Linked DNA regions of Homo sapiens. The protein of the gene in region 2 interacts with the protein of the main gene of each other region in a pairwise test. Each region holds a gene or a part of one and is shown on either strand. Other genes may lie near its edges.

The links. The genes of interacting proteins can lie anywhere in the genome.
Region 1: the proteins of TXNDC12 (region 2) and SGTA interact in binary tests that used the Homo sapiens proteins (3 or more experiments, as listed by UniProt).
Region 3: the proteins of TXNDC12 (region 2) and KLHL2 interact in binary tests that used the Homo sapiens proteins (3 or more experiments, as listed by UniProt).

Annotation. Positions count from the first base shown.
Region 1 is NC_000019.10:2,765,950-2,773,447, reverse strand, and holds part of SGTA (small glutamine-rich tetratricopeptide repeat-containing protein alpha), read left to right. Parts: intron 1-4,356; 5' UTR 4,357-4,379; coding exon 4,380-4,479; intron 4,480-5,761; coding exon 5,762-5,868; intron 5,869-6,227; coding exon 6,228-6,312; intron 6,313-7,498. UniProt on the Homo sapiens protein: Co-chaperone that binds misfolded and hydrophobic patches-containing client proteins in the cytosol. Mediates their targeting to the endoplasmic reticulum but also regulates their sorting to the proteasome when targeting fails.
Region 2 is NC_000001.11:52,052,192-52,059,341, reverse strand, and holds the start of TXNDC12 (thioredoxin domain-containing protein 12 precursor), read left to right. Parts: upstream 1-4,150; 5' UTR 4,151-4,245; coding exon 4,246-4,342; intron 4,343-6,658; exon of another isoform or gene 6,659-6,935; intron 6,936-7,150. UniProt on the Homo sapiens protein: Protein-disulfide reductase of the endoplasmic reticulum that promotes disulfide bond formation in client proteins through its thiol-disulfide oxidase activity.
Region 3 is NC_000004.12:165,203,127-165,210,884, reverse strand, and holds the start of KLHL2 (kelch-like protein 2), read right to left. Parts: upstream 3,325-7,758; 5' UTR 3,064-3,324; coding exon of another isoform or gene 3,009-3,063; coding exon 2,983-3,008; intron 867-2,982; exon of another isoform or gene 743-866; coding exon of another isoform or gene 705-742; intron 1-704. UniProt on the Homo sapiens protein: Substrate-specific adapter of a BCR (BTB-CUL3-RBX1) E3 ubiquitin ligase complex that mediates the ubiquitination of target proteins, such as NPTXR, WNK1, WNK3 and WNK4, leading most often to their proteasomal degradation.

The sequences.
Region 1 (7,498 bases), on a different chromosome or scaffold from region 2:
TCCCTGCCGTGTGGCCGCGTCACCCACCTCTGCCCTCGGAGTCCCTGCCGTGTGGCCGCGTCACCCACCTCTGCCCTCGGTGTCCCTGCCGTGTGGCCGCGTCACCCACCTCTGCCCTCGGTGTCCCCGCCGTGTGGCCGCGTCACCCATCTCTGCCCTCGGTGTCCCTGCCCTGTGGCCGCGTCACCCATCTCTGCCCTCGGTGTCCCTGCCGTGTGGCCGCGTCACCCATCTCTGCCCTCGGTGTCCCTGCCGTGTGGCCGCGTCACCCACCTCTGCCCTCGGAGTCCCTGCCGTGTGGCCGCGTCACCCACCTCTGCCCTCGGTGTCCCTGCCGTGTGGCCGCGTCACCCACCTCTGCCCTCGGTGTCCCTGCCGTGTGGCCGCGTCACCCATCTCTGCCCTCGGTGTCCCTGCCGTGTGGCCGCGTCACCCACCTCTGCCCTCGGAGTCCCTGCCGTGTGGCTGCGTCACCCACCTCTGCCCTCGGTGTCCCTGCCGTGTGGCCGCGTCACCCACCTCTGCCCTCGGTGTCCCTGCCCTGTGGCCGCGTCACCCATTTCTGCCCTCGGTGTCCCTGCCCTGTGGCCGCGTCACCCACCTCTGCCCTCGGTGTCCCTGCCCTGTGGCCGCGTCACCCATCTCTGCCCTCGGTGTCCCTGCCGTGTGGCCGCGTCACCCATTTCTGCCTTCACATCCACACAGTGTTCTCCCTGTGCATGCGTCTGCATCCAAATGTCCCCTTTTTATAAGGACATTGGTTATTGCTCTAGGGACCCGCCGTACACTGGTATGATGTCATCTTACCAAATTCTGTCCGCCAAGATCTTATTTCCAGGTGAGGTCGCATTCCAAGGTCCTGGCAGTTAGGACTTCAGTGTATGGATTTGGGGGACACAGTTCAGCACACGACAGTATTCAGCCCCTGGAGCCGCCTGTCAGCGTGGCTGCGCGCAGAGGGTCCCTGGGGCCCAGCTGGGGAGTGGGACCTGGCGGCAGAGACCCCTTGCACTGTGCTGGCTCAGAAGGAGGAGCCGTGGCCTCCTGGGTGCTGGGTCAGAGTTTCCTTGTAGGTGTTTGTGGCTTTAGTCACTTCTTGGAGAGCAGATCTGGGCACAGAGCAGAGAAGAATAAGAAATTATCCAGAGGCAGCTGTCACTGTAGAAGATTCCTTCAGGCCTCGCCCTTCCTCGTCCATCCCGAGGCTGGCGGCCTCTTGGCCAGGCCCTGTCTGACCCAGCCTGAATCCGAGCGTCTGATCTCAAACCTGTGCTTCTCCTCACGGTGGTTCCCCAGCTCCTGAGGCCTCAGGCCTGCCCCTTGCCTCATGCGTCTTGGCACACAGAGTGCAACTAAGAATAAGGTCCACTATGCACGGGCTGGGCCCGGCCCCGGAGGAAGGCCGGTGACACACAGCCCCGCCACCCTGTATGTCAGCCAGTGAGGGACAGAGATGGGGAAGACCCAGCTGCTCAGAGACACCAGAGGCCCTGGACAGGGAGTGGATTCCAGGGAAGGCGGCTGCCCAGCCCAGCCCGGAAGGAGCAGGTGGAGAAGGGAGGCCCAGCCAAGGGAACCTCATCGCAAGAACAGAGGATGGGGGTCCCATCCCACGGCCAGGGCCTCCCCAAGGGCTGCCCCTCCATGCGCCAGCACCACAGCAACCCCTCTCCATGCCTGCTTCTGGCCTCAGAGCAGGTTCTCCAAATGCTCCCAGTGAAACTGCACAGCCGGGCAGCGTTTCTGGAATAGCCTCAGCATGTGTTGATCTGGACACGGAGGGTGCACCAGCACCCGTCCACGTACCTGCCTGTGTGGGGGTGTTCACTCAGCGTTGTGCACGCCTGGTCTCGTACCCCTCCCCCCCCCCCCGATGGGGAGGTGCTGTCGCCATCCATGGGGGACAGAAGAGGAAACTGAGGCTCAGCAGAGTTAAGTCGCTTCCCCTAGGTCACACTGCCAAAAACAGCCAACCGAGGTCTATGCCACGAGACTCACCACGAGGAATCATGATTTTTTTTTTTTGACATGGAGTCTCACTCTGTTGCCAGGCTGGAGTGCAGTGGTGTGATCTCAGCTCACTGCAACCTCCAACTCCCTGGTTCAAGTGATTCTCCTGCCTCAGCCTCCCGAGTAGCTGGGATTACAGGCACGTGCCACCATGCCAGCTAATTTTTGTATTTTTAGTAGAGATGGGGTTTCACCGTGTTTGGCCAGGATGGTCTCTGTCTCCTGACCTCGTGATCTGCCTGCCTCGGCCTCCCAAAGTGCTGGGATTACAGGCGTGAGCCACCACGCCTGGCAGAATCGTGATATTAACAACAGATATCGCAGGGCGCCAAGCGCTGGGCTGACAGCTTCCGGGTTATTTTTTCCCCGACCCCTGACAGCAGCCACAATGGAGCTCCCCATTTTACAGACATGGAGGCGGAGGCTCAGGCCGAACAACCCGTCCGAGCTCACAGGCTTTGCAGGCCACGATCCGGGAACCGCCTGGCCTCTCCCTCACAACCCGGCTGGCTTAAAACAACCAAGATTGATTTCCCTCGCAGTTCTGGAGGCCAGAAGTCTGAGATGAAGGTGCAGGCTGGGCCACGTTCCCTCTGAAGGCCCCAAGGGAGGCTCCGTCCTGCCTCTTCCAGCTGCTGGGGGCCAGCGAGCCTCACCTCTCTTCGTGTGGCCACATGGCCTCAGCCTCTGCCTCCGTCTTCACGCGGCCGTCTCCGTGCGGCCATGTTCAATCCCTGCATTAGGGCCACCACAGCGACCTCATCTCCACTTGTTTCCATCTGCAAAGACACAGACAAGGTCCCGTGCTCAGGTCCCAGGTGGACGTGACTAGCCCAGAACTTGGCTGCTCCAGCGGCGGGGGCGGGGGCGGCTGCTTCTCCACGCAGCTTGTTACATCTGAATGTTTAGAGTCACCATCGCCAGCCTTCGGGGGAAATGGAGGCACAGTGAGGCCAAGCCTTCCTGAGCTGGCGCCTCAAGGCAGCCGGCCAGCCTGCCCCGGGGGAAGCTCACGTCGGGGCTTCCTGCTCAGAGCCGTGAAGGTCACTGTGGCCGAGGCCCCTCCAAGTTGGCCCAGGCACCCAGGAAACCTGTGTGAAAGGTCTTGTACTAAAAAAAGACCTGTCCATAGACTACAGCTCCAGATTCCAGAACAGCCTCTCCTGATGTCACCATCTGGCACCCTTTAGAGCTTTGGCAGGAAACTGCAGGGACCACAGACATGAGCAGAAGCAGCTGTCAAGTCCTGGGAATGAGGAACAAGACAGGGTATCCGAGGGGGGACCAGGCGGATGTCCGAGGGGGAACCAGGAGGGTTTCTGAGAGGGAACCAGGAGGGTGTCCGAGGGGGCATCCAGGAGGGTATCCGGGGGGGAACCAGGCGGGTGTCCGAGGGGGGCACAGGCGGGTGTCCGAGGGGGGCACAGGCGGGTGTCCGAGGGGGGAACCAGGCGGGTGTCCGAGGGGGGAACTAGGCGGGTGTCCGAGGGGGGAACCAGGCGGGTGTCCGGTGGGGGAACCAGGCTGGTGTCCGCTGGGGGAACCAGGAGGGTGTCCGGTGGGGGAACCAGGCTGGTGTCCGCTGGGGGAACCAGGAGGGTGTCCGCTGGGGGAACCAGGAGGGTGTCAGGTGGGGGAACCAGGCGGGTGTCCGAGGGGGGCACAGGAGGGTGTCCGAGGGGGAACTAGAGGGGGGTCTGAGGTGGAATGAGGTAGGTAGGCCTCCCAGGGGGAACAAGACGGGTCCCCAAGAAGTCCCTGGGGGGAGTCCTCTGCAAGTCCTGTGAAACAGTGATACCAGGGCAGGCACACCTGGCCCCGTTGGGTACCTAAGAAATGCTTGCTGACATGCCACAAAAGAGGTAAATTGAGGAAAGGGGCAGTGGCTCTGGCTGAGGACAAGGTCTCTCCCTCTCAGCACTGTGGACATTGGGGCTGGATCGTTCTCTGGAGTGGAGCTGTCCTGGGCACTGCAGGGTGCTGGGCAGCATCCCTGGCCCCCACCCACCTCATGCCAGAAGCAGGGGCGGAGGGGACCTCCGTGGCGCCTCAGTACCACCCTGGGAGTGCTCAGGAGGCCCTGGGAGCACGCGGGTTCTCTAGGGCAGGCCCTGCTTGCCTGCTGGCCTCACACTTTCTGGCTGTGTGCATAGCCGGATTGGTGAGCTCTGGGCCTCAGGTCATCATCTGTGAAATGGGCGTATTAAGGCCTTTCTACCTGGGCTGTCCTGGAGCTGAGATCAGCCAGCACCCTTAAAGTGAGGCCCAGCTAGTTAGGGGCAGGCCTGGGGTGCCTGGAGTGGGGAGTGTGAGGGGGCCTGATGGGGGTTTTTCCTGCACCCCCAGGTATCACCTCTTCTGGGCTCAAGATGGACAACAAGAAGCGCCTGGCCTACGCCATCATCCAGTTCCTGCATGACCAGCTCCGGCACGGGGGCCTCTCGTCCGATGCTCAGGAGAGCTTGGAAGGTAGGTGGGTGCCTGCCACTTCCCCCTCTCCCCGGGCAGCGGCCAGCACAGTCGCCTCGTGTAGACACCTGGTGTGTAGATGCCTGGTCCCCCGCCTGGCTTTTTGGGGGTGGAAGCTAAGCCCAGAGAGGGCAGGGGTCTGCCCAGGGCCACACAGCCCCCGGCCGTGGGAGCCAGGGCCGAGCTGAGCCCTCCCGCCTGCCACTGCGTGGCGCCACCACTGCTTGATGCCTTCAGGCTGAGCTGCCTTCCAGTGGCTTTTTTCCATCTCCCCATCTTCCACCAAGGTGTGTTCTGGAATGTTCTCACCACCCAGTGTGTGTGTGTCACCATCGGTCACGGGGAAAAAGCTCTCCTAGTGCTGGCCCCGCCCCAGAGTCCCAGACTCGTTGGCATCCTGCATGGCCTGTCCGCTCCCCAGGTGCCTTGGTCTCCTGGCTGGTCTTGCTTGCGCTTCTGCGACACCTGGATCCGGGGCTCGGAGGGAAAGGAGGGCTCGGGGAGGCACCCTCGTGTGGCTGCAGGTTCTGCTCTAGGTCCTCCTTCCCCACCTATGCCTCGCTCACCTGTGTCCTGGGCCTGCCAGGCCTCTGTAGCATGGACACCCAGTGACAGCTGTAGGGATGTGCCCGGGGTCCTTGACACAGTGCTGGGCAGGAAGTGGCTGACCCCCACTTCTGACCTGGGTTAGGACCCTGGGTCCACACGAGGAGGCGGCCAGGGCTAGTGTTGTCTGGCTCGGTGGGAGGGCCCCCTGGGTGCTGAGTCTGTCAGGTGGGCCAGCAGAGAGAGGGGCCCTGTGGCTGTTTCTTGTCCTGCTCTCAATGGTCCTGCCCTGGTACAGACCCAGTCATACAGGCCTTCTACTGGGGGCTGGCTTCAAGCTCCTTACTCAGGCCAGGCGCCCTTGGAGGTGCAACAGCATCCGGGGCACCTCACCCCTGACGTGGCCCTCCAGGTGGGGCCAAGCCCCCACCACGCCGCAGCCGGGCAGCCCCAGCATTGGGACCCCACAGAGGCCTGAGGTCACCACCTGGGCTCCACTCTGCCCACGGCCTCTGCTGCTCTCAGGGGCACGGGGCGTCTCTGTCTGGCTTTTCTTTTCGGGAAGGAAGAGGGTCCACTGTCCCAGCCCAGAGCACAGGCGGCGGCCCCTGCGTTCTGGGGTCCTTGGGAATGAACACACCTGGGGAAGCATGAGCACCAACCCCGCCCTCTAGACCCAAAAACGTAACCTCGGGGCTGCGTGCAATGAATGGGACCGCCTCTGTCCCCGCTTCAGTCGCCATCCAGTGCCTGGAGACTGCGTTTGGGGTGACGGTAGAAGACAGTGACCTTGCGCTCCCTCAGACTCTGCCGGAGATATTTGAAGCGGCTGCCACGGGCAAGGTGAGCCTCGATGCTTCCCCAGCCACTGCCCCCAAAATAAGAACAGCAACAGCAGGCAGCCCTGGGGACCCCAGGAGCCCCGCTCTCATCGTCCCCCAGCACTCTGCCTGCATCCTCTCCTGGGCTGGGGACGTGGCTGCAGGAGCACTTGGCCCTCCTCCCCCTATCGGCGGGTCCTGAGACACATAGCGCTGTGGTCACTCGCCCAGGGCCACATGATGGGGGGCCAGGAGTCCCCTGCAGAGCCCCCGGGTCCTTCGGAACTTGGTGGCCCTCTCTGGCGTCCCGAGGGAAGCTAAGGCCGGAGGGTGCCAGGTTGGGAGGAGAGGACAGCGGGCCGCCTTTGCCTCCGGGTCCAGGAGATGCCGCAGGACCTGAGGAGCCCCGCGCGAACCCCGCCTTCCGAGGAGGACTCAGCAGAGGCAGAGCGCCTCAAAACCGAAGGTAAGGGAGGACCTCCATCCCCACAGACACCTCGCCCTACCTGGACTCCGGGGCTGTGGGACCCTCGCAGAGGCCAGCTGGTCCCTGGGGCCCAGGGAGCTGAGGGAATTGCCCTGATGACCAGCACGCTGGCTTGTGGGGACGGGGACGGAAGGGGGACTGGCGAGGGGACTGGCGAGGTGCAGAGAAACTTGACCTTCAGGCACAGCACGGCTGGTGGGGTTGTCGGGAGCGGCCCCTGTGGAAGACTGGCTGGTGGCCCCCAAAAGTTGCACAGCTTCCATGAGACCCGCCGGTTCCACCCTGATACTAGATATGTGCCCAAGAGAGACACATGTCCACCAAAACCCAGACACATGTTCACAGCAGCTGTATTCACAAGAGTCAAAAAGCAAGAAGAGGCCGGGCGCGGTGGCTCACACCTGCAGTCCCAGCTCTTTGGGAGGCCGAGGCGGGCAGATTGCCTGAGGTCAGGAGTTCAAGCCTAGCCTGGGCCAACATGGTGAAACCCCGTCTCTACTAAAAATGCAAAAAAATTAGCCAGGTGCAGTGGTGGGCACCTGTAATCCCAACTACTCAGGAGGCTGAGGCAGGAGAGTTGCTTGAACCTGGGAGGCGGAGGTTGCAGTGAGTCCAGATCGCGCCACTGCACTCCAGCCTGGGCGATAAGAGTGAAACTCCGTCTCAAAAAAAAATAAAAAATAAAAAATAAAACAATAAAAAGAAGCAAAAACAGCTTAAATGCCTGTCCACGCTAAATGGTCAGCACAGCATGGCCCATCTACACGGTGGAATGTGGATGGGTGAGGCTCTGACCCAGGCCCCAGCGCAGATGCACCGTGAAGACATCACACTCAGGGAGAGAGGCCAGACACAAAAGGACGCACAGCATGTGATCCCATTTCTTTTTTTTCTTTTTTGAGATGGAGTCTCGCTCTGTCGCCCAGGCTGGAGTGCAGTGGCGTGATCTCGGCTCACTGCAACCTCTGACTCCCTGGTTCAAGCAATTCTCCTGCCTCAGCCTTCTGAGTAGCTGGGACTACAGAAGCCTACCACCACGCCCGGCTAATTTTTGTATTTCTAGTAGAGACAGGTTTCACTGTGTTGGCCAGGATGGTCTTGGTCTCCTGATCTTGCGATCCGCCTGCGTCGGCCTCCCAAAGTGCTGGGATTATAAGCATGAGCC
Region 2 (7,150 bases):
GAAATTCAACAAAAGGCTGTCTAGCTGTCAAGATATCAAGTAGTCATGTCCTCTATTCAAGGTCAGATGGTATGTTAATAATGGGGAAAGAGAACCAGGTTTTCAGACATTTGGTGCTTCTGCAGCACTCTCCAGAGTTCATTCAATACCCTGCACTGATATAGTATGTTATACTTGTCAAGACATTCTTGCATACAGGGTAAAATGCTTCATTGCACAATTTAACAAAAACATATCTTTGCTACAGTAATAAATGTTGGGGGGGGGCAGAGAGGAGACTCCTAAAACAAGCTTTTTAAAGTTAATCTTGATTTTGAAGATTCTAAAATTATAGTCATGAATCTAGTCTGGTCAGTGATAATCCCACTAAGAAAAAAACATTCTTAAGTTTATAATGGGTCATCACATTCCACATTACATAAACAAAGAAAAGCCAAATTCAGGCCCGGCACGGTGGCTCACGCCTGTAATCCCAGCACTTTGGGAGGCCGAGGCGGATGGATCACCTGAGGTCGGGAGTTCGAGGCCAGCCTGACCAACATGGAGAAACCTGTCTTTACTAAAAATACAAAATTAGCCGGGCGTGGTGGCACATGCCTGTAATCCCAGCTACTCAGAAGGCTGAGGCAGGAGAATCGCCTGAACCCGGGAGGCGGAGGTTGCGGTGAGCCAAGATCATGCCATTGCACTCCAGCCTGAGCAACAAGAGCGAAACTCCGTCTCAAAAAAAAAAAAAAGCCAAATTAAAAGTCTTGTTTTACTTGTTCTGCAGATCAACAAATCATTACTGAGATGTGAGGGAGGGAATAAGGGACTAGGTTGTTATCAAATCTTCTTTGGCCAATTCTCTAAACCCTGTATAGTCATCATTCACATGAAAAAAATACTGTTTGCTTCATTTGAGAGATTAAAAAAAGCAGCATCAAAGACTATATAATTACTAACCATTTTGTACTTTGACACTATCCTTAGGCAATAACCTATATATCTATCTCTTCTTTAAGGCTAATGTCCAGATCCCAAATAATATTTAGAATTTATGATTCTTCACTCTGCTCAGCGCTGTATCACAATGCTGAAGCAGCTAAAAACACTTTTATAGGAGGAAGTGTGTTTAGAGTCCAAAACAAGAAGTCTTAAATGTGTGCCAATCTTAGCTCTGCCATAGACTTAAATTTGATGACTTAAATCCCAATTCCTATGCTCAAATATCCACAGAAAAGGACCAACATTCACTTTTCTCAAAGGAATGTGGCCATGAGAGTGTAGTGAACTAACAAAGAGCCAAAGGAATTTATTGCAAAAAAAAAGGGGCTAAGGAAAAACATTAGACCTAGATACTTGGTAAACCCTTTGGGATTCTTCTGCATTTTGAAGTAACAATTCCCAAGAGAACAGACAGAGGTTGGGATGCCAAGACAAAGTCTTGACTTGTTTGAAATAAAAGCAAGAACAAAATTAACTCTTCAAATCAAGGTATAGATGAAAGAACAGATTCCATTCCAGGTGGTCAGGACAACAGAATTGAGAAATTTTGTTCCTAAGGAGTATCTCAGAGAAAAATGATTTTAGGGAGACTGAGAGCTCAAGGCAGTAGGGGAGGAACAAGAGTAGTCTTTTGTTTCTTGGCAAGTTGTGGTGTGTGGAATTCAAGTAGGAAAGAGGACTGGACTCAGTCTATGCGATGTCAAGCTCAGAATCTGGAGTAGACCTCCAAGATCACCTGGTTTAATTCTCTATTCTCAATCAACCTCTACTTTATTGCACCCATCATTCCTATCTGTGATGTCATCTCAACATCTGCTAGCACCAGCAAAGTATAAATTACAAACGAAACAGTTCCCTCCCTCCCATCTTAATAGATTAGGAAATAAGGGCCCAGAAGGGAGAAGTCCCTTCCTAGGCCCAAAAGGGAGAAGTAACTTCCTAAAGCCACATGATTAATGAGTTCTTCCTTGGGGATTCCAGGATCTTTTAGCACTGTTCTCAAGGACTCAAGAAAGGGTGTAAACAGGTTTATATTTATTAAGTGCCTAAGTTAGAAGCATTGTGGTAGGCACTTTCACATACATCATGTTTACACAGAGATAAAAATAATTGCAACCTTGAGTCCTGACTTTTTATTATGTAGGGTTTCTCTAAGACAAGCACAGGCTTTGGAATCAGAAAGACCAAGGTTCTACCAGTTGGGAAAGGTATTTTTCTTCTCTGAACTTGTATTCCTCCTGCATTTGGAAAGGTATAACACCACGTACTTCACAGGGTTGTTTTGAGGGTTAAAACATTATCAACCACAGGGAATGGTTCACAGAAGATACACAGTTACTGGTAACTATTGTTACCACTCCCGAGGGGACAACTATGGTAAACTGCAAGAATGTGGGAACGGAAGTTGAAACCGCCATTCACTAGCTGTGCAACACTGAGCCTGTCGGTCAGCAGGCAGTGGGAGGGGGGTTATAAAGATGGGCAAGGGACGCCGACTTGTAAACAAACACTGCCATTACAAGGTGAAGAGTGCTGTAACTGAGTTCGGTTCCCTGGACTCAAGGGCGGGAAGTGGTAACCTCAGCTTCCCTATCTGTAGACTGGGAGCATCAAATGAGATGACAACAGAGAGCCTGTATAAAGCTCAAAGCACACAACACTGCTGTTGTGAGCAAGGAGTAATGGAACAGAGGAGGGGCGTCCACCTGCCTCCTGGGACAGGGTCTGGGCGGCAACAGGGCGGGCCCGCTCGCTCCCACAGGGGGCGGTGGTGCTGGGGACCTTCCCACAGGTGCCGACCCCCAGCTGCGCCGCCGGTAACCGACAGGCCAAGCCAGCCGCCTCCGCCCCCGCTCGCCGCACCACGGCGGAAGTGGCAGCCTGAGCGGTTGGCGGGTGTCGGAAGGGGAGGGCGGGGGGAGACCGTGCGCAGCGGCCTATGGCCGTGAAGTGGCGGGACCGCCGGGGGTCTCACCTGAAGCAGGGAGGGTCCTCCAACACCAGCACGCGGCAAGAGAAAGATGGCTGCCTCAGCCGAGACAGAGAAAGACGACGGCGGCGGCGGCGGCGGCGGGAGCAGATCCACGTGATACAGCCGACCCCGCCTCTCCCTCTCCGGGGCAGCCTATCCCGGGAGCGAACATCTGAACTCCAACGCCCCGCCTGCTTTGCGCATCCCTCTTAGTGCTAGTGGCGGCAGGTGCAGGTGGCCGCGCGGCATCCTGGGGCTTGCAGTCTCCCGAGCGTTCTGTTGTGTCCCTGCCTACAATTTTAGGGAACCTAATAAAAGGGTGGTCGGTATGTTTTTATTTGGGTGTGTACTTTTGTTAGGTCGCTTTTTCGCTATGCATTAAGTACGGACTTTAGGACTCAACTAGTACCAGGAAGAAAAAGACCGGACATTTTCACCTGTTTGTTATACAGCGAAGGGGAAAAATTGGGAAGAAATCCTCAAGCTACAAGAAAAATAACCAGAAGCTTTACACTTTAGCCTGCAGTGACTTATATCCTGGTGTCCTAAGTCCACCTAAGTCAGTTTTGCAATAAGAGGTCCCAAGTTTGGTTTTCTTGGAGCTTGCATCAGTTGGTTGCATCATCCCTGAGTAGAAGATTTGCGGTTGCAAGGAAAAATAAGGTACAGAGCTTCTCCAGCGGGAAAGTGCATGTCTGCACGGCACGAGCCCACGCACCGCAGAACAGGCTTGCCAGGTCTCCTCAGAGACCCTCGCAGGAACCTAACAATGAAATCCAGTTGTCCAGTCTTGATTTGTGGAGGGGTAAGGAGAATCCGAGGCCAGTGGGCAATCCGCCCACTGTTGGGAGCGACTGACCTCACGAATCAATAATTTGCTTTTGACTAGGAAGTGCAGCGGTTCTTGGGGGGAGGGGCTGGACTGGGTGGCGGACGCGAGGAGCAACGGTTCTCCCGAACCTCTCCCCCGCCCCTACTATCTTGGCCTACATTTTCCCGCTCCGTCCCGGGACCTGGACACCCAGAATCCACGAAAAGCAACTCGCGCTCGAGAACAGCTCTCGTACCCTTCTACGTGATCTGCACCTTTAAGCTCACTCCATCCCAAACCGGACCCCGGAGGCACCACCCACATCCGTCTAACATCACTTCCTTCAGAGTTTGAAAAAAAAAAATCTGGGAAGTAGAGGTGTTGTGCTGAGCGGCGCTCGGCGAACTGTGTGGACCGTCTGCTGGGACTCCGGCCCTGCGTCCGCTCAGCCCCGTGGCCCCGCGCACCTACTGCCATGGAGACGCGGCCTCGTCTCGGGGCCACCTGTTTGCTGGGCTTCAGTTTCCTGCTCCTCGTCATCTCTTCTGATGGACATAATGGGCTTGGAAAGGGTCAGACCGCGTTCTTATCTTCTCTTTACTGATCTTTACTATACTGATCCCAGTATAATCTCTTCTTGCCCTAGCACCGTTCCCCTCCCATTCTAACTCTTAGGCCACTCCAGATTTCTTTTTATCTTCCCCAACCGCTCCTGGAGTTTGAAGATTTCTTGGGGTAGAGAGTAGCGGGTCTGGGGAATGGAGAAGTTGTACTTGAGGCCTCTCTAAATTATTGGATTGGGGGGAAGGAATGGCCCGTAAATTAAGGAAAGCATGTTAAGAGCCCAGCATAGTGCCTAGCACTTGGGAGGTCCTGAGGAACGGTCACCTTCCCACCTGGGAGAAATAGAGCCGTTGGGGACCTGCATATGCAGAGGACCCTGTTCTGGGTCTGAAGATTTCTCTCGTTACTTCTTCCGCGAAGAGCTAGGTTACTGCCACTTGCTTGCCTTTGGGAAACAGCACCTGCATCCCAGGTAGCTGTATCTAGTGCATAAGAAGAGCCAAGCGAATGGTAGAAGGTCTGCTGTTTAAGGGTCCCCAACAATTGTCCTTGCTGTGGTTCAGCGAAGTTTTTTTGTAAGTGAGCGATCAGTGGTTATGAATGGAGGTTAGGAGGTGTGGCCCCCTACTCCATCCATTACCTACATCTCCATTCTAAGTTTTAACACCTCTCTCCTCATCAGCCCTTACTTAGTTGAAAGTTGGACTGACAGTCTGTGAACTCAGAGTTTATGCTTTTCTAAGTAGATGAATTGTAGCATGGATCCCAACCCCTCTTCCTTTTTTTTTTTTCACTGACCTTACTGTATGGAATGATTCTGCTGCAATCCTTCTGTTTTTGTTTTCTCTTATCCTCTCTATTTTCACATCTATTGGTGAGTAATAAGATTGGGTGGGCATTCATTTTGCCTGAATGCAATCATTCCTTCATTCCGTAAATAATTTTTGATCACCTCCTATATTTCAGGCACTGTCCTAGGCACTAGGGATATAGCTGTAAACAGGACAGACAAGGTTCCTACTCTGGTGGAGCTTATATTCATGTCAGAGAGACAGAGTAGACTCATGAACAAATTAATAAGACAGTTTCAACTAGGAACAAGTGCTGGGAAAACAATAAGACTGTGATGGAATAGGAAGTAGAAAGGCTGGGGAGGTTGGTGGAGCTGGCATCACTTGAATTATGAAGGTCAGGAGAAGCTTTTTGGAGAAGGTGATATGTGGGTTTCCATCTCAGTGATGAAACTGCATGACAAATCCTGTTAGGCCAGAATGTTTTAAATACTGACAATCCCATTTTAAAACAGACTACCGTTTTTTTTTGTTGTTGTTTTGTTTTGTTTTTTAGACAGAGTCTCACACTGTTGCTCGGGCTGGAGTCCAGTGGCATGATCTTGGCTCACTGCAACCTCCGCCTCCTGGGTTCAAGCGATTCTCCTGCCTTAGCCTCCCGAGTAGCTGGGATTACAGGTGCCTGCCACCACGTCTGGCTAATTTTTTGTATTTTTAGTAGAGACGGGGTTTCACTATGTTGGCAAGGCTGGTCTCAAACTCCTGACCTCATGATCTGCCCGCCTCGGCCTCCCAAAGTGCTGGGATTACAGGCATGAGCCACTGCGCCCAGCCAGCTACTGTATATTTAAAGTTGTAAGTACTGAGAGTAACAGAAGAGTAGAGTGTTGGGTACGTGGGTTTAGATCTGAGTTTTTTCTTTGCTGTTTTTTCTGTTTGTTTGTTTGCTTTTGTTTTTGAGACGGAGTCTCACTCTGCCAGGCTGGAGTGGAGTGGTGCAATCTCGGCTTACTGCAACTTCTGCCTCCCGGGTTCAAATGATTCTCCTGCCTCAGCCTCCCAAGTAGCTGGGACTACAGGCATGTGCCACTATGCCCAGCTAATTTTTTTTTTTTTTGTATTTTTTTGTATTTTTAGTAGAGATGGAGTTTCACCATGTTGGCCAGGCTGATCTCAAACTCCTGACCTCAGGTAATCCTCCCTCCTTGGCCTCCCAAAGTATTGGGATTATAGGCGGGAGCCACTGCGCCAGGCCTAGATCTGAGTTTTAATTTGTTCTGCCACTCACTAGCTGAGTAGCCTTGGGCAAGTTTCTTAACTCTCAAAGCCTCCGTTCCTCATCTGCAAAATGGGCATCATAACTACCTCAGACACTCAACAAATAATTTGCTCTGTTCAAGTTACTGTGTTAGGTGTAGGTAATACCTTGGAATCAGGTATTTTGTATTTTTATTCCTTGTTAGATATTAAGCTTTGTGTGGTTGTTCCAGTTACCATTGTTGTGTAATAAATCACTCCAAAATTTAGTGGGCATGAAGAAATCATTTTATTATGCTCACAATTGTGTGAGTAAGGAATTCAAACAAGGCACACTGGGAAAGGCTTGTCCCTGTTCTATGATGACTGGGGCCTTGGCTAAGCTGGTTACCTCTCCATGTGATCTTTCCGCATGGGCTCCTATGGGTTTCCTCACAGTAGCTTTATGGGAGGCTGGATTCCAAGAGTGCGTGCCATAAGAGAACAAGGTGGAAATGCATGGCATTTTTGTCACCTAGCCTTACAAGGCACATAGCATCACTTCCACAGTACCCTGTAGGGGCAGATTCAAGGGAATGGAATATTAGGACCCCCACCCTCACCCCCAATGGGAGGTATGTTGAGGTCACATTGTAAGAAGGGCATATCTGCCACAGTGAACCAGGACTATTTCTGTCTTGTTCATGCTCAGGAATATTTGTTGAAAGAGGAAATGAATGATAAACATGATAATTGTGATTCCTGTCCTTTTTCAGCTTGCAGTCTGGT
Region 3 (7,758 bases), on a different chromosome or scaffold from region 2:
GAAGACTGATCAGTAAGAGAAGATCAGAGGGATGCACTCAGGCCTATACCTCACAGTCTTCCTTCAACTTATTATGAAAATCCTTTATACAAATAACTATAAAAGCCAGACTGTAAAATACATTCCTGAGGTCAGGGCTGGTCAATTTACATTTCCTTTTGCACATCTCAGTTTACCATCTGAAATTCCTTTACTAATCTACATCTAAACTACATCTCTCAATTTACTACCTGAAATTCCTTTACTAAGCTACATCTTTTAGTTACACATCTTTCAGGTTTGATCAGAAGCAAATGTAACACAGTCTCAATATCACCCAGACCCAGAATGCAACAGAATCTAAATGCCACATATACTCAAGTATGCAAAAAACAATAAGCACAAATATATAGTCCAACGACAATTTTTAATTATATGAGAATTAAAAAGGATGAAAGTTGGAGGCAAGGAATAGAAAAAGCACAAAAGATCAAAAGCTAATTTCAAGGAGTCCATCCTGAAGGAACCAGGAATGGTGGGTACAGATGCCTGACCTCCCTCCAAGACAATGTGCCAACAGGCCAGTGGAGAACAAGGTGGGATCTGAGAACAATGTAAATTTGGATGTTAAAAGAGAACACAAGCAAAAGCACCACGCACAGTGCCAGGCAGAGACAGGCATTCAAATATTTGCACATTGAATGAATTAATAAACAGACACTTACACAAAGAGAATCTGGGGCCGTGCTTCCAACCATACCATAAGGCACTTTAAGTCCAGGTCATCTTTCTTTGACTTAAAGCTCAGGCTAAAAATCTAACTTCATGAAAAGCTGAGTCTTCCTAATAGTTTCCACTGGCCTCTGTTCTAGCCCAGCTCTGGCAGTGAGGCCCGGTAAAGTTCCTTCCTAAAGACACTGCCTGCAAGTCTCAAATCCGGCACACGGGATCCATGGTGGAGGGATGTTAATGGGAGTGGAGGCAAACAGGCCAAGGGGTGGCAAGGAAAAAAACTATTTCTGATCCACAGAATGGCAAATAACACCATAACGAGTTCTTGAATTAGGTTTAATCCTGGACAGAACCAAATGAAAATAAAAACCTACTTGTATTTATAATTAAATAGACAGAAACAATGAAAAAGTCTCACCAACTTTAGCCACCCCTGATTGAAAGGAGTTTTAACAATTCTTTCATCCATGCTGGCATTCCAAGTTTTCCATTATATCTCAGCCTCTCATTGTTCCAGCACTATTGATGGAATCTCAATGCCAAAAATGGCGCTGGTCATCAAAATTATGATTAGCTGATCTACCCTAGAGTCAGTTTATCAATGTTTCAATGCATACATCAATTCTATTTTTTATTATTTCAATTTAAATCATCTGTGTCTCTATTCCCTCCCTCCCTCCAGAGGCTGCTTTCCCACACCCTTCTTTTCACCTGCATTCTAAGTATTCCCTTGTTCTTTCCTTTAGCTCCCTCTGTTCCAAAAGTAAAAACGAACTGCAGGAACTTATGTAGAAGGCAGGTTTACTACAGATAGCATACCTACATGTTACATATTATATACCATATGTTGGCTAAATACAGCTAGCATATCCTGCTTTAAGTGCTTCTGAGCCTGGGCAGACCCCCGTGTGCTCATGCTGCTGATGTGAACCATCCACCATCATATTTCCTAGGGGTTCAGGTGCCTTCCTCCAGCCTGCTGAAGAACATGACCAAATCTCAGAGCCCTCAAAGCCACAGCTATCGAGAGGTGACTAAGCCCCTGCTTCTGTCAGCCCAGGAAGGCCAATTCAAGAGTCTTATCTACCCCCTAGATTTCCACGACCTGTTCCACTCAAGCTAAAAATTCTGAAACGCACTTTTAGAAACTGTCGTTCCAGAATCCCATTAGCTCTCCTAAAAGGGCTGAACATCAAAAAATTATTCAACCCAAGCCAAGTATCCTTATTTTGGCTGGAATTCTGCCAAATAACCACAAGAGACTGGTGCGGTACAATCGGCATGGAGTGAAGCTTGCCAAATTTGACCGGAGAACGACAAGCCTCCATGAATAAGCTCTCATGAAAAGGTAAACCATTCTTCAGGATGAGGTTTGTCTGCGATTTGAAAAGTCAGATTCAAAGGACTCTTGTTCCTTCCTAAGAGAAGAGGGAACCAAAATTGAAATTTTCGAAACTCCTGGGTATTTACAGTTCACTTTTACCAAGATGTTTTTAAAACTAAAAACTAAAATTTAAAAAAAAAACCCTTGTTCTGAATAATGCAATAATGTCTTCTACATAATGTTTCAGCTATTATTTCTAGAAAGTAATTCTGTTGCCAGTGATCTTGAATGTACTTGGGTACCAAAGAAAAAAGACACCTGTGCCTGGCAGGTCGATACGCTACTAATTTGCCCGAGGTACGAACGAAACAGAAGATGCTGATTTCTGGATAAAACGTTCTGCAGTGCCAGGTAAAAGAGGTCACATGCCCTGAACGGCCGCCGCTCATTTAGAGTGATGCAAAAGCTCCTCAGATATTAATTTTGTTAGAAATTCGGGGAATCAAGCAACCTAAGATCAATTCATTTAGACAGCGGGTGACTGGTACTTTCCAGTTTCCTTTTTTCAACGGACTCAGTGCATCCTAGCCTGATCTCTTATAAAGGGGTAGGCAAACTCGGCACCAGGTGCCCATGCATTTCAGGGAGGTACACACAGGACCTGCAGGGTCACCCATGCACAGCCCCACCCCGAATCTTCTATCCGCCCGAGATGGGGAAGACCCTTCCCCAGAAATCCTGGGCAGCGTTTTAAGTCACCGCCTGGCCAGGCTGAGTTTCCGTCCGCGTCCGCTCAGGACTGCGGGCACAGCGCCTCGTCACGCCCCGCATCTCCCACCTCCCGCCGGCCCCGGCGGCTGTCCCCAGAGCTGCGCCCGCGGCCGGCGACACGCGCCGCAGCGGCGCGCTTATCCGCAGCGGCGCAGCCCGCCCGCCCGCTCACTCACGCGGGAGGCAGCGGCGGCGTCTCCATTGTGGCTCCTCTCGGGCTTCAGAACGCAGGCACCGACCAACACAGCCAGCACCATTCCAGCCGCGGACGCCGGCACTGCCCGCCCGCCGAGCCGCGTTCCATCCGCCCCGGAGGGGGCGCCGCGCTCTCCTCACCGCGCGCCACCACCTGCGGCGGCGGCCCCCGCGGCCATGGCCCGCTCGGCCGGGCGCGCTCCGTCTACTGCGCGGCTCCCGCGCTCGCCCGAGTGCGGGGCGGCGGCGACGGGACCGGCGGGCGCGCGGGCTCGGCCACTTCCGGGTTCGGCCCCGGCCGGCGCCGACGCTGTGACGGGACTGCGATGCGGCCTCCCGCGGCGGCCGAGTACCCCTCCCTCGGCGCCTCCCCTTCCTCCTGCTGCTGCTGCTGCCGCTGCCGCTGCCGCTTCTGCTTCTGGAGGCGGGCGGGCGGGCGCCAGCCGGGTGCGGGGCGGGCGTGCCCAGACGCTGGCCCGCAGGCCGGGACGCGGGCGGCGGCCGCCCACAGCGGGTCTCTGGATCGCCGGGACGGGGGCGCTGGAAAATGGGAGCGGAGGGGGTTCTCCGTGCAGAAAAAGGGCGGCCGAACGCACGGCGTAATAATGCTCGGTATCCACTTGCTGCTCTGCTTCGCGGGCGTGTACACGTTATTCTTTTCATTTGTGCCTGTACCCAGGGAGATGGGAAGGGTAGGCATAACCAACCAGTGTCCTTACAAAGGGTGGCACTGAGGCAAGAAGAAGTGATTTGCCTGTCCAGTGTCCCAGGCAGGAAGCAGGCTCTCCCTCCTCAGTATGCTAGCCATTCCTTGGACAAGTGAAGTGAGCACCTGCTAAGCAAGGTTTTAGTGCTGCGGCTGTGACAGCAAAACCAAGTCTTTCTGCTTGTGGAGCTGTCCATCTAGACGGGGTGACGGAAACAGTAAGTGATGCTTACCATGAAGAAACATAAATGAGGATGAGGAGAGGGAAAGAGATTTTAGAAAGAGTGGTCAGAGAAGGCCTCTCAAAAGGCATGAGTTAAAGAGATGGAATAACAGGGGCTTTGAGTAATGCAAAGAATGCCTAGGGCAGAGGGAAGAGCAGCGTGGAGACTGCTAAGCAAGATCCTGCCTGCCTTGTTGAGGAACGGGAAGGAGAACAGTGCAGCTGGTGGTTCTCCAAGTATGCCCGCTGGAAGCAGTAGCACCTGCGAACTTGTTAGAGATGCGAATTTTCCAGTCCCACTTTAGCCCTACTGAACCAGAAACTCTGGGGGTGGGGCCCAGCAGCGTGTGCTTTAACAAGCTTTCCAGATGATGCTTGCTGGGGCCGCGAGGGTGGGAGACCCTCTAATGAAGCAGAGTGAGGTCAGGAGGACGGCGGCAGGAATGGGTGTGGCGAGGAGTAATCACAGATCACCCAGGCCTTGCAGGCCGTGATAAAGGACTTGGCTTTTACTGAGATTAGAAGCAATTAGAAAGTGGTGAGTAGCTTGATCTGATCATTAAAAGGATGACTTTTCTGGGATTTGTTTGAAAATATCCCACAAAAAGAAGGACAGAGGTCGGGCGCCGTGGCTCACGCCTGTAATCCCAGCACTTTGGGAGGCCGAGGCGGGCCGATCACCTGAGGTCGGGAGTTCGAGATCCGCCTGACCAACATGGAGAAACCCCGTCTCTACTAAAAATACAAAAAATTAGCCGGGCATGGTGGTGCATGCCTGTAATTCCAGCTACTCGGGAGGCTGAGGCAGGAGAATCGCTTGAACTAGGGAGGCAGAGGTTGCGATGAGCCGAGATCGTGCCATTGCACTCCAGCCCGGTCAACAAGAGCGAAACAAACTCCGTCTCAAAAAAAAAAAAAAAAAGGACAGAGAAGTGAATAGATGAATATTTGCAAAATGTTAATTTTTGAGGCTAAGTGTTGGGTGCATAGGGGTGGTCATCATTTATGTGTGTTTATGTGTATGTTTTAAAAGATAATAATGGGCCGGGCGCGGTGGCTCACGCCTGTAATCCCAGCACTTTTTGGGAGGCCGAGGCGGGCGGATCATCTGAGGTCAGGAGTTCAAGACCAGCCTGTCCAACATGGCGAAATCCCGTCTCTTCTAAAAATAGCCGGGTGTGGTGGTGGGTGCCTGTAATCCCAGCTACTGAGGAGGCTGAGGCAGGAGAATCACTCGAACCCAGGAGGCGGAGGTTGCAGTGAGCCGAGATCGGGCCACTGCACTCCAGCCCAGGCAACAGAGCGAGACTCCGTCTCAAAATTCATAAATAAATAAAAGTTCATAATACAAAGTTTTTTTTAAAAAAAAAGATGACTGATTGCTGTATGGGCAACATGCATAGCGAGGCAAGAGAGCAAGCAAAGAGATTAGCCTAGCTGGGATGAAAGGTAAGGATGGCTTGGATTAGAGTCCGAGTGACTGAGAAAAGTGAACAGGTTCTGAATCTGTTTAGAAGGTAAAGTACTCAGGAACTGCTGACAGATTAGCATATAAAAGAAAGATGATCCTAAGGGTTTTGTTCTGATCTCTGGGGAGAATTGAGTTGCCCTTTACTGGGATTGGGGATATTGAGAAAGAACAAATATTGGAGGGCGGGGTGGAGATTGTATTTGTAAACTCTGATTTAGATATGGTAAGTTTGAGATGTCTGTTAAACATCCATGTGAAGATAGGTGTAGACAATTAGATATATGTATCTGGGGTAGATATAAATTTGGAAGTTGTTAGTATACAGATGGGTATTGAGATCAACTAGATTATGTAGCTAGAGAAAAGAAGTAGACCAAGAAGTAAGCCCTGGGGCACTCCAACATTAAAAAAGAAGAGGAGGAGGACTCAGCAAAGGCGATGGTAAAGGAACAACCAGGGAAGTAGAAGGAGATCCAAGGCAGGTGTCTTGGCAGCCTAGTGAAGGGTTCCAGAAAACAAACAAACAAACAAACAAAAAACCCTTAGTACACTTCAGCATGAGCTAACTTCTCTGTATGATGGTTCTGTTCAGAGCCATAATAAAACTTCCTACTTTACAAGGTTGTTTTAAGAATTAAGTGAAATAATTGATGTAAAGTATATAGCACATAAATGTATAATGGAAGCACTTAATAAATGTTAGTTGCTGCTATTATTTCTGTACACTTCTGTGGCCATCAGTTATACCTTACTCTGCTAGGAACTGGGTTAAGTCCTAGAGCCAGGAGATACTGACTTAGGTTTTACCAAACCTTTGGCCTGACTTCCTTCTGCATGCAAACTCAGTGAGTAGGGCTGACTCATCAGCCATTTCAGGAACTCTTTTGAGGCGGGGGGTGGGAGGTGGACTTTTTCTATTGCTTTTGTATCTTCCCACCCAAAATAGTGTTATGTGTACAAATAAATACTAAAAAATTACGATGTGTCCGTCTGACAGCTAGGCACATAACTTCAAACCATAGCCCCTCTCACATCCTCCTCTGGGTTAGTTTTGTCTATCATAATTCTTTGCTTAAGGGGTTCGACTCATCTAGCATGCTAAATGTCAACCCAAACCTTTCTTTTTTCACAACCACCCCCATTTGTAGGCTTCACAAGTATACTGGGAAAGAGTACATTACCCACATACAATTCAGCCTTACTTGGAGTTAAATGTCACACCAAAACTGGTCCTCAGCCAGATACAGCCTCCACCCTTAACCTGTCTCTCTGCTCACAAGAGAAAGTAAACAAAAATGCTTGACAGGCTGAGCCCAAATCCAACATTACAGTGGGGAAGAAACTTTTTAACACTTCTTCCTTTGACTCTCAGTTTCACTATCTTCTCAAGTGAAGGACACTAAGGATTAGGAGCGGCTACCTAAGACCACCAAGCTCTTCTCTTTTTCATTTCCCTTGACATAAGGTCTGACTGAACATGCAACGGTGTTGACCTCCCCTTGCGTAGGTTATTACCTCCACCCACGTTTTCATCATTCTTTAGCTGAGCCCTTCACACCCTTGGCAGAGGAATGAGATCTTACAAAAGTCCATCTGCCTCCTATGCTGTTAAGATAGAACAATTCCTTAAGCATGTTAGTAACCATAATCTAAAGCTAATGTAAGTAAATGGAATGTATCACTTGTAAAGAAAATGGAACCACTCAGATGAACAAGTCCGTGACAGTGGCTAGTGGCAAAAATCCCTTAGATTGAGCTGAAATCAGATGTTGCAATAGAACTAATGACATGACATGGCAGGCACAAACACATCTCATGGCAAGTATCCGGGAGCTAAGAATTGCTCCTATAAAGAAAAGACTTAACTTCGCTGAAGAATACAAAACCATTAGATGCTATATTTGTAATTCCTTCCAGTGCAAAGATGGCAAGTATGAAAAGATTCACTCATTCAAAATTAGGTACTAAAGAAGATAAAGGCCTTCTAAAAAGTCGCATTTTCTATCCTAAAGACTTAGTTTAAGTTGCTTTACTAATTTTAAATTAGGGATTTTGCTTTTAATATTTTGACTTAGGAGAAACTTAGCAGCATAATATATTAAGAAGCATTTCAAAATGTTCTTTTGATACTTTGCGGTTTAGCAAATGGATTTGTCAATACATTAAGATATGTATTACAAGCTTTATGGTGTCAAATGGGGTGACGTGCGTCTTGTGCTCCAGATCAATAGACAATCCTTAAGTGATGGAGTCCATTGTTTCCATGAATCCAATTTACTCTTCAAATGCTTGCCTCCTTGTTTTTGTAGTCTGTAAGATAGCAACTTTACTTCCGACACAGCATACCTCCCCATTAC